2 separate regions of the Homo sapiens genome follow, and region 2 is linked to region 1. Evidence: fine-mapped expression QTL. A gene starts in region 1. The other region holds a variant in brackets. All regions are shown on one strand. Distances are between the middles of the regions.

The links. PIP is the estimated chance that this variant, and not a neighbour inherited with it, causes the effect. A credible set is the group of variants that fine-mapping cannot tell apart.
Region 2: its variant is the best candidate, but not a certain one, in a credible set for the expression of ISCA1 in monocytes after LPS (Fairfax 2014, PIP 0.50).

What each region holds. Positions count from the first base shown.
Region 1 is chr9:86,280,691-86,285,080 of GRCh38, reverse strand. ISCA1 (iron-sulfur cluster assembly 1) reads left to right here and starts at 2,543. Exons shown (of 4, transcript NM_030940.4): 1 at 2,543-2,703. The coding sequence starts at 2,623. It overlaps LOC124902194 (a long non-coding RNA gene), which reads left to right and starts at 3,000. Exons shown (of 2, transcript XR_007061634.1): 1 at 3,000-3,112; 2 at 3,628-4,390. RefSeq lists enhancers at 2,143-2,422, 2,543-2,692 and a silencer at 2,863-3,162.
Region 2 is chr9:86,125,573-86,129,962 of GRCh38, reverse strand. It overlaps LOC101927623 (a long non-coding RNA gene), which reads right to left and starts at 2,423. Exons shown (of 5, transcript NR_110996.1): 1 at 882-2,423; 2 at 635-733. The variant A/G (reference allele first, on the strand shown) is at 2,415.

The sequences.
Region 1 (4,390 bases):
TGCTCTCTACTAAAATCCTTGAGTTTCAGCATCTGTAAAACTGCCATGCCAGTGCTTCTGCCCTACTCAGTTCAAAGTTGTGAGGCTAGTATGAGATAATATAATATGCTCATGGAGTTTTCTGAATCTTGTAAAGTGCTGCACAACTGTGTAATGTGTCAATAACTGAAAAAAAAATGACAGCATCTTTTATTTTTATTAAATTTTAATTTTAGGGCTGTTTTAGGTTCACAGCAAAGTTAAGCAGAAAAACAGAACTGCATATATCCCTTGTTTCCACATGTGCCTCACTGTCACTCTGCACCACAGTGGTACACTTGTTACAATCTTAAACCTACATGGACACATCATTAGCTCTCAGTGCCCATAGTTTACCTTAGGGTTCACTCTTGGTGGTGTACATTGTGTGGGTTTTGACAAACGCATAATGATATCTATCCACCATTATAGTAGTTTCACAATACATGGCATCTTTAAATACTCATTAACAATTACCATTTGAGTGAGGCTGTGTGCCTTGCACCCCTCTAAGGGCTTCTCCTGTATTAACTCATTTAATCTTCACAATATCTGTAGGAGGGAGGATATGAGATCCCAAACCCCCAGGTAGTCAAAGATGAAGGCCAAGAAACAAACCCACCACACCACCACCTCTCTATGTCCCTCCCTCCCTCCCTTCCTCCCTCCCATCACTTTTTCAGTTTCTTTCTTTCGAGATGCAGTCTCGCTCTGTCACCCAGGCTGGGGTGCAGTGGCGCAATCTTGGCTCACTGCAACCTCCGCCTCCTGGGTAGCTGGGATTACAGGTGCCCGCAAACACGCCCGGCTAATTTTTGTATTTTTAGTAGAGACGGGGTTTCACCATGTTGGCCAGGCTGGTCTAGAACTCCTTATCTCAAGTAATCTGCCGGCCTCCGGCCTCCCAAAGTGCTGGGATTACACGTGTGAGCCACTGCGCCCGGCCCCCAGTTTCTTTTATTTTCTTTCTTTCTCTCTCTTTCTTTCTTCTTTCTATCTGTCTGTCTGTCTCTCTCTTCCTATCTTCCGTTCTTTCTTTTTTTTTTTGAGACAGAGTCTCACTCCGTTGCCCAGGCTGGGAGTGCAGTGGCACGATCTCAGCTCACTGCAACCTCCGCCTCCCAGGTTCAAGCGATTCTCCTGCCTCAGCCTCCTGAGTAGCTAGGATAACAGGTGTGCACCACCACACCCGGCTAATTTTTGTATTTTTAGCAGAGATGGGGTCTCACCATGTTGGCCAACCTGGTCTCGAACTCCTGACCTCAGGTGATCTCCCCGCCTCGGCCTCCCAAAGTGCTGGGATTACAGGCGTGAGCCACGCGCCCGGCCCCCAGTTTATGTGCAGATAAGGCTTAGGGGAAAAAAAAAAGCGTCCTCTTATTGTCAATGCGATTGCATTTCTGTAGCAGGAAGTCAGAACTACTTGATGGAATTTTGAACTATCCTTTCAGAAACTGCAGGAGATCGAAGATAAACTTGGCTTTAAAAAATGTTTCACTGATTAGTTCTTCCCACATTCAAACACTGCGAATCTGTCCTCCCCAGGACTGCTTCATAGACCCCTCCTGCCCTTTTTCCTTCACTTCTAGCACTTCAATGACAAATGCCACCTGTCTTGATGTCCTCCTCTCTTCATCTGCTAGCCCTGTCCTGCCAGTATCTCATTCTTCCCTGGCCCCTCTTTACCTGGCTTCCTGTGTATGCCTGGGTACCGCGCCTGTGCAGTGTCTGGTGCTCAGGAATACTGCATCAAAAGGCAGAATTAAGCCCCTGAGCAGCCAGGACAAGGTCTGACAACACGTTTTAAATCGAGTAATTGTTGCTCGCTATAAATGTGACTATTCACACTGCTGCCCAGTCACATTTTCAAGTAGGGTTGGTTCCCAGTTCAGCACCAGAATGAAAACTGCATTAGTCACCACCCTTCAGCATCCCCAGCAGTACAGCACGCTGGGGAGAAGGGTGGAGGGTGGCGATTATACAACTCTGCGGTAACGCCATGCTCTTAAGAACAGCCTAATTGGACCACAAAAGAAGAATGAAAATGGATGTAGATGTCTGGGCATCGGAACGATCACTCTGCATTTGAGAGCATAAGCTCCCAGTGCAGGGTTGACTTATGCGTCCTTAAGTGTCACCGCCTATGATGGTGTTTGTCACGGTGAGTATTAAAGCAGGGGGTGACGCTGCACCTTGCCCCGGGGGCAGGTGGTGAAGCTACGTGCATCCGGAGTCAGCAGGTCTGAGGTCATTCCTCGCCCCCTCCCGCCCGCTCCCCGACGTCACGCCGACTCCGTCCTCGGCGGTGAAGACATTCCTCCCGGGCCCTGCGCCCTGCAGCGTGGTAACCCCACTGCCGGAGACCGTGCGCAACCCAGCTGCTAGACCCCCGGCGTTGAGCGGCAAAACCCCGCCCCGAGCGGCTTGCCCCGCCCCCGGCTCGTCACTCATGCAACTCACCCAATGGTGGCGGCGGGGGGCGGGGCTAGGACTGAGGGCGCCGTGCGCCGAAGCTTGTGGCGTCAATGCGCCCGCCGTGTCCATGGAGAGAAGCTGAGGCGGCCGACCTTCGGCCCGAGGCACCGGGGCGCCGGGACGGCGAAGATGTCGGCTTCCTTAGTCCGGGCAACTGTCCGGGCTGTGAGCAAGAGGAAGCTGCAGCCCACCCGGGCAGCCCTCACCCTGGTGAGTGCTCGCGGCGCGCGGCGGGGCCCGTGACATTGCTCGTGTCCGCCCCGTGCAAGGGGAGGTCACGGCGGCCGGGAGTGGGGCCGCAGGGACGCGGACACGTCAGACCTCGGCGTCGCTCCGACCCGCCGCACAGCCTCGCCGCCTCCTTCGCCTCCGGCCCCTCTTTGCAACGATAAACAAGTCCCGGGCGGGGCTGCTCTCTTGGCCCCGGAAACTACGTTTCCCGTCAGGCCGCGCGGCAACCGCGTGCGGGCCGGAGGGGATCCCGGGGGTGGGCGTCCCCGGGGGCCGATCGCCTCCACACTCCTGCCGGCCTGCGCTGTTCGGCCGTTCCGGTTAAGCAGAGGCTGAACGTGCCCGGTGGCGGGGGTTCCCGGTGGTGGCCCGGAGTCCTAGCCTGGAGGTGCGTGGGGTGGGGAGGGACCAGGCTGTCCGAAGGACCGCTGTGTCGGGGCGACAGCGTTCGCAGAGGGCGAGCACAGCGACAACAAAGCCCCCGGCTCCTGCCGAGGTCACGGCCGCGGCGCGCAAAGCGTTACTTGCCGGTGTCCTGGGTGATTGAGGCCTTTGAAACTCCCTCTGTGCCTCTAGCAAGCCTAGGCTCTTAGGACAAAAGATGATTTCCCAGAGTGAGTTTACAGCCTTTTCTGGGTGAAAGGTCAAACACTCAGAGGGCACCAGAGTGCAACCATTGATTACTTAGAGAATTCACTGAGCTCAGTGTTCCGGCCGCACCGTTCAGTTTTTTAGTGGAAGGAAAATCCACATAACATAAAATTAGTCCTTTTAAAGGGTACAATTCAGTGCCATTTAAGACATTCACAGTGTCGTGCAACCATCACCTCTATCTAGTTCCAAAATACTTTCACCCCAAAAGAAAAATTTATGATCACGTTCCTACATACACTCCCCTTTTAGTGAAGGAGACGACTTTATGCAACCATTCGCTTAGAGACTGGGAAAAAAAACGATTTAAATTGACTCATCGATTCTGTTGCATCTAATGCCAAAAGGGCCTATTACCAGAAAATAAGTTTGTAGCAAAGTAGAAGAAAATTGTGATCAGGTGAGAGAATTTATTTTTATAATCAATTTTTTAGGCCTTTGATATTACCCTGATTATATATGGTACTACTAGTGTACTGATTATGTATCATTCTATATTACCTCTTTTCTGTAGGAGCAAGCTTATTTTCATACACCGTGGGATGTAGAATTAAACAAGGTTTTAAGAACTAGAGGGCACAACTCATTCTTTGTGTCTCTTTCAATCTCAGTAAGAATTATTCAGAATTCTTCCACTGGTAATGGTAGATCCAGGAAGAGCCAGAAGGTTCAGGAACAGTTTTTGCCTTTTCTTTTTTGCTTTTTAGCAACCCTATTAACTGGGTTTTTTGTTTTTTGTTTTTTGTTTGTTTGTTTGTTTTTGTTTGTTTTGTTTTTGGAGACAGGGTCTCACTCTATCTCCCAGGCTGTAGTTCAGTGGTGCAATCATGGCACACTGCAGCGTCAACCTCCTGGGCCCAAGCGATCCTCCCACCTCAGGCTCCCAAGTCGCTGGGACCACCGGTGTGCACCGTCATGCATGCACCTAGGGTCTCCCTGGGTTGCCCAGGCTGGTCTCGAACTCCTGGGCTCAAGCAGTCCACTGCCTCAGGCTCCCAGTGTGCAGGGATTACAG
Region 2 (4,390 bases), 160 kb after region 1:
AACTCCTGACCTCATGATCCACCCGCCTCAGCCTCCCAAAGTGCTGGGATTACAGGTGTGAGCCACTGCACCCAGCTGACCTTGAACAAATTACTTCTCTGTGCCTTTATTGTAGAAAACAACTTCTAGAATTGTTGCTAGGATTCAATGAGTTAACACACACATAGAACAGCTCCTAGCACATAATAAGCAGCTAAATACTTATTAGCTACTACTATAATTGGTACCAGCCATGTGACCTGGAGAGTGGGCTTCATTTCCTCATACCTCCCGGGGTCTGCCAGGTCAGATGCAATAATGGGTGTAAAAGACATTTATGTACTGTTAAGGTACATCACAAAATGTATAGTATCATCACCACAGATTTAGTTACTTCTAATGTTGATTGTTTACTGTCCCTACAGGTAAGCTTACAATGTAGGAATCTTTTTGTCTTCTGTCACTGATGCATCCTGACCTCCAAAAACAGTGCCTGGTACATAAAGCACTCAATAGAGAGTTGTTGAATTTCTTGAATGGATCAATAAATTAATGAACAACTAAATAAGTGATCCTGGCTGTCTGAGTCAGTTCAAATGGCCATAACAAAATATCACAGATTAGGTGGCTTAAGAAACAGAAATTTATTTCTTACTCTCCTGGAGGCTGAAGTCCAAAATCAAGGCACTGGCCATTTTGGTCCCTGGTGAGGGCTCTCTTCCTGGCTTGCAGGTGGCTGCCTTCTTTGTGTGTCCTTACATGGCAGAAAGACAGACAGAAAGAGAGAGGGACAGGGAGAGATAGTGAGGGCTGGTGTCTCTTCTTACAGGGGCACAAATCTCATCACTAGGGCCCCACTCTTATAACCTCTTTAACCTTAATTACTTCCTCAGAGGCCCTACCTCAAAATACTGTCACTTTAGACGTTAGGGTTTCAACATATGCATTTTGGGAGGACACAATTCAGTCCATAACACGGCATGAGTGCACACATAAATTTCCATAAACATAGAAACAAAAATTCCGTAAATTCACTGTGGCTTGTCACCTCTTGACATGAACTTCTCTGAGCTCTGGCCATCTCAGGATACCTGCACCACCACCATTAGCACCGTGGCCTTTGTCTTCTTCGCAAGGTGAGTCTCTCCCAGGTTCCCCTGACTGCAGCTCTAACAAGCCAATTGTCCAGTGTGACCAAGGAAGAAGAGTCTTGCAGATTTTAACCAAGAAAGGGAAGGTCCAGTTGGTCTTGTCAAAAGACAAAATTCCAACAAATATAGTTATAGATCTAATTGGCTTTTATTTGCAATTCATGAATCAGGGCAGCTTCCATTCTACAAAACAGCATGAGGGTTCCTGCTGGACAGCAGCAGAACAGTGGGTTTTGTAAGGTGAGAACAAGGAAATAGGAAAAAAAAAATTTTAAAGTCGGATTGGCTAACATGAGGTTACTTTTTGTGTAAAAATTAAAGCAGAGAGGACTTCCTTATTGCACTGACACAGGTAGACTGGAATCTTCTGTTCTCAAGAAAAACTAGTCTATGTTGGATCTATCTGCTTCCTTAAAGCTTCTATTTGATGACGAGGCATTTAGCATGAATGACTCCATTTTGGTTTGGTCTCGTCTGTTGGGGCCTAGTACAGGAGTTCAGTCCAAAATAACGGGCTCCCATAATTTTGTTTAACAGCCTAAACTTAAGTTCTTCAGTGATCTGAATCCTCAGCTAGACCAAAATCTTCTGCTAAGTTGCTCTCCTTTTGACTGTCTGGCTGAGCTGTTGAAGGCCACAAAATATTTAGCAGGTAAAAGTACTGTTCAGGAACTATAATAATTTATTTTGTATTCATGGTGCTTTTCTGGCTTATAGAACATTGTTAATAAGTTGCTGTAATGTGCGCTTATATTTATGAATTTATAAACATTATGAATAATGTGATGATTATTGAGAGGCATATTGCCAAATATCCATAAACTGATCATTAGTCTATCTATGTATTTATCATTGTATATAAATATGTCAGTTTTGTTTTCAGGGAAAAAACTGTTTGCAATCTATAACTTCCAGGGCTCTTATCTCTGAATTGAACATGTGCCTAGGGGTATCAAACAGAACAAGACTCCAGATAGTAAGTAAATAGTCCTTTTTCTTATGACAGCTACTTAATCTGTAACAAAACAAGCAAACATAAAAGCTAAGTGATATCTAAAGCTTACCACCAAGAAAATAAGTTAGCAACTGAACAAAGCGCCTTCCTTCAGGCTAGATCTTACATACACACACAGTATCGACTTCAAGCCACTTCAGAAGAGACTCAGAAAGCTGCTGCGCCTGGCCTTGCCCTTAGGTTTGTTAGCTTCAGGGTCACAGTCCCAGCGGGGAGCTGACCCATTAGTCACACCTGCTTCACAGCCCTGCCAGCACTCACGGGGCCCA[A/G]TGAGAAGCCACAGGCATGTTGGTAGCCAGGCCAGGAGACCCAAGGGCCACGCCCATAGTTCTACAGAGTCATGTTAACCGTGGTTGTTATGGAGACAGCCAGTGTTCTTCATGAATGTGTAGCTGTTTTGTCACTCTGCCTGGGTCCGGGGACAGGCTGGCTCGTTACAAAGGCACCCACTACTGAAGACAGGCTCAGAGGCAGGAGTGGCCCAGCCCTGCCTTGTAGATGCTGATTGAGCTCTGCTACAGAAAATGCTTGATACAAGACTGTGCACCCCACCCCCATCCCAAACATGACTTGACTCTTAAAACAGCCCTGTATAACCACAATTGGCTTGTTGCCCTTTTGTTGGCTGCACACACTGATTTTTCCACAACCTTCAAAACCCTTCCTGAAGGGTGTTGTGGAGCAAATCCCAGAAGATAAACACCGTGTGAATGAACCCAAACACAGAGGGCTGTGATTACAGACCCTAGAGCAGCCTTCGAAGTATGCAGTGTTCTTCCCTAAGGCACCACCTTCTCACTAACCAAAATGGGACTGACTGGTGCTGAGTCCCTCTCGCTTATTCTGCTGGGATGAAGCCTGCTGGATGCGAACTTTGTGCTGTGCTTTTTGTATTTGCTATTTGCAGAGCAGAACATTATTTTTTGGTGGAAGATAGAGATGTGGATATGTGAGTCCCTGCCCTCAATTAACTCATAATCTCTTGGACTCACATATTAACAATAAGAGGGTGGAATAGAAAAGCGGCTCCTAACTGATACAGGGTTAAGCCTGCGTAATGACAAATTTCAGAGCTGAACAAGCAGAGGACAAATCACTTAAATGCATGGCTTTAGAGCACTGAGGTCAGAACTACACAGCCACCAAAAAGAATGAGGCAAAGCCTGTGTGCTGATATGGAATAAGCCTAAAACACACCAGAGACTGACAAAGTAAGGAGCAGTACAGCCTGTGTGATGTGTTCCCTTTTGTGGAGAGGAGAGGGGGAGGAGGGGAGAGGCAGGGTGGGAAAATGCAGAGAATAAGCCCAGAGCATTCCTAGGAAACTGGCAACAGATTGTTTGTTTGTTTGTTTGTTTTGTTTTGAGACTGAATCTCACTCTGTTGCCCAGGCTGGAGTGCAGTGGTGCGATCTCGGCTCACTGCAATCTCCGCCTCCCAAGTTCAACCAATTCTCCTGTCTCAGCCTCCCGAGTAGCTGGGACTATAGGCGCATGCCACTATGTTCAGCTAATTTTTGTAGTTTTAGTAGTGACAGGGTTTCACCATATTGGTCAGGCTGGTCTCGAACTCCTGACCTCAGGTGATCCACCCGCCCCCGCCTCCCAGAGTGCTGGGATTACAGGCCTGAGCCACCGCACCCGACCCCCCCACCGCCTTTTTTTTAAAAAAAGCAACTTTGTTGGGGGTGTAACTGACAGACAATAAGCTGCACATATTTAAAGTATATAGTTTGATAGATGTATACACCAGCAAAACTATCATCTCAAAAAGTACACATCTTCATCCCCCTCAAAGTTTTCTTGGACCCCTTGGCAATGCCTCCCTCTTGATCTTCCCCACCCATTCCTCATTCCCTAGCCAACGCTCCAACACTGATATGCTTTCTTTCAATACAGATTAGTTGGTGTTTTCTAGAATTTTTTTTTTTTTTGAGATGGAGTCTCACTTTGTCACCCAGGCAGGAGTTCAGTAGTGCGATCTCAGCTCACTGCAACCTCTGCCTCCTGGGTTCGAGCGATTCTCCTGCCTCAGCCTCCTGAGTAGCTGGGATTACAAGCACGTGGCACCATGCCCGGATAATTTTTGTGTTTTTAGTAGAGACGGGGTTTCACTAATGTTGGCCAGGCTGGTCTCAAACTCCCGACCTTAGGTGATCCACCAGCTTATGCCCCGAAAAGTACTGGGATTACAGGCATGAGCCACCATGCCCAGCCTAGAATTTATATAAATGGAATTATACGAT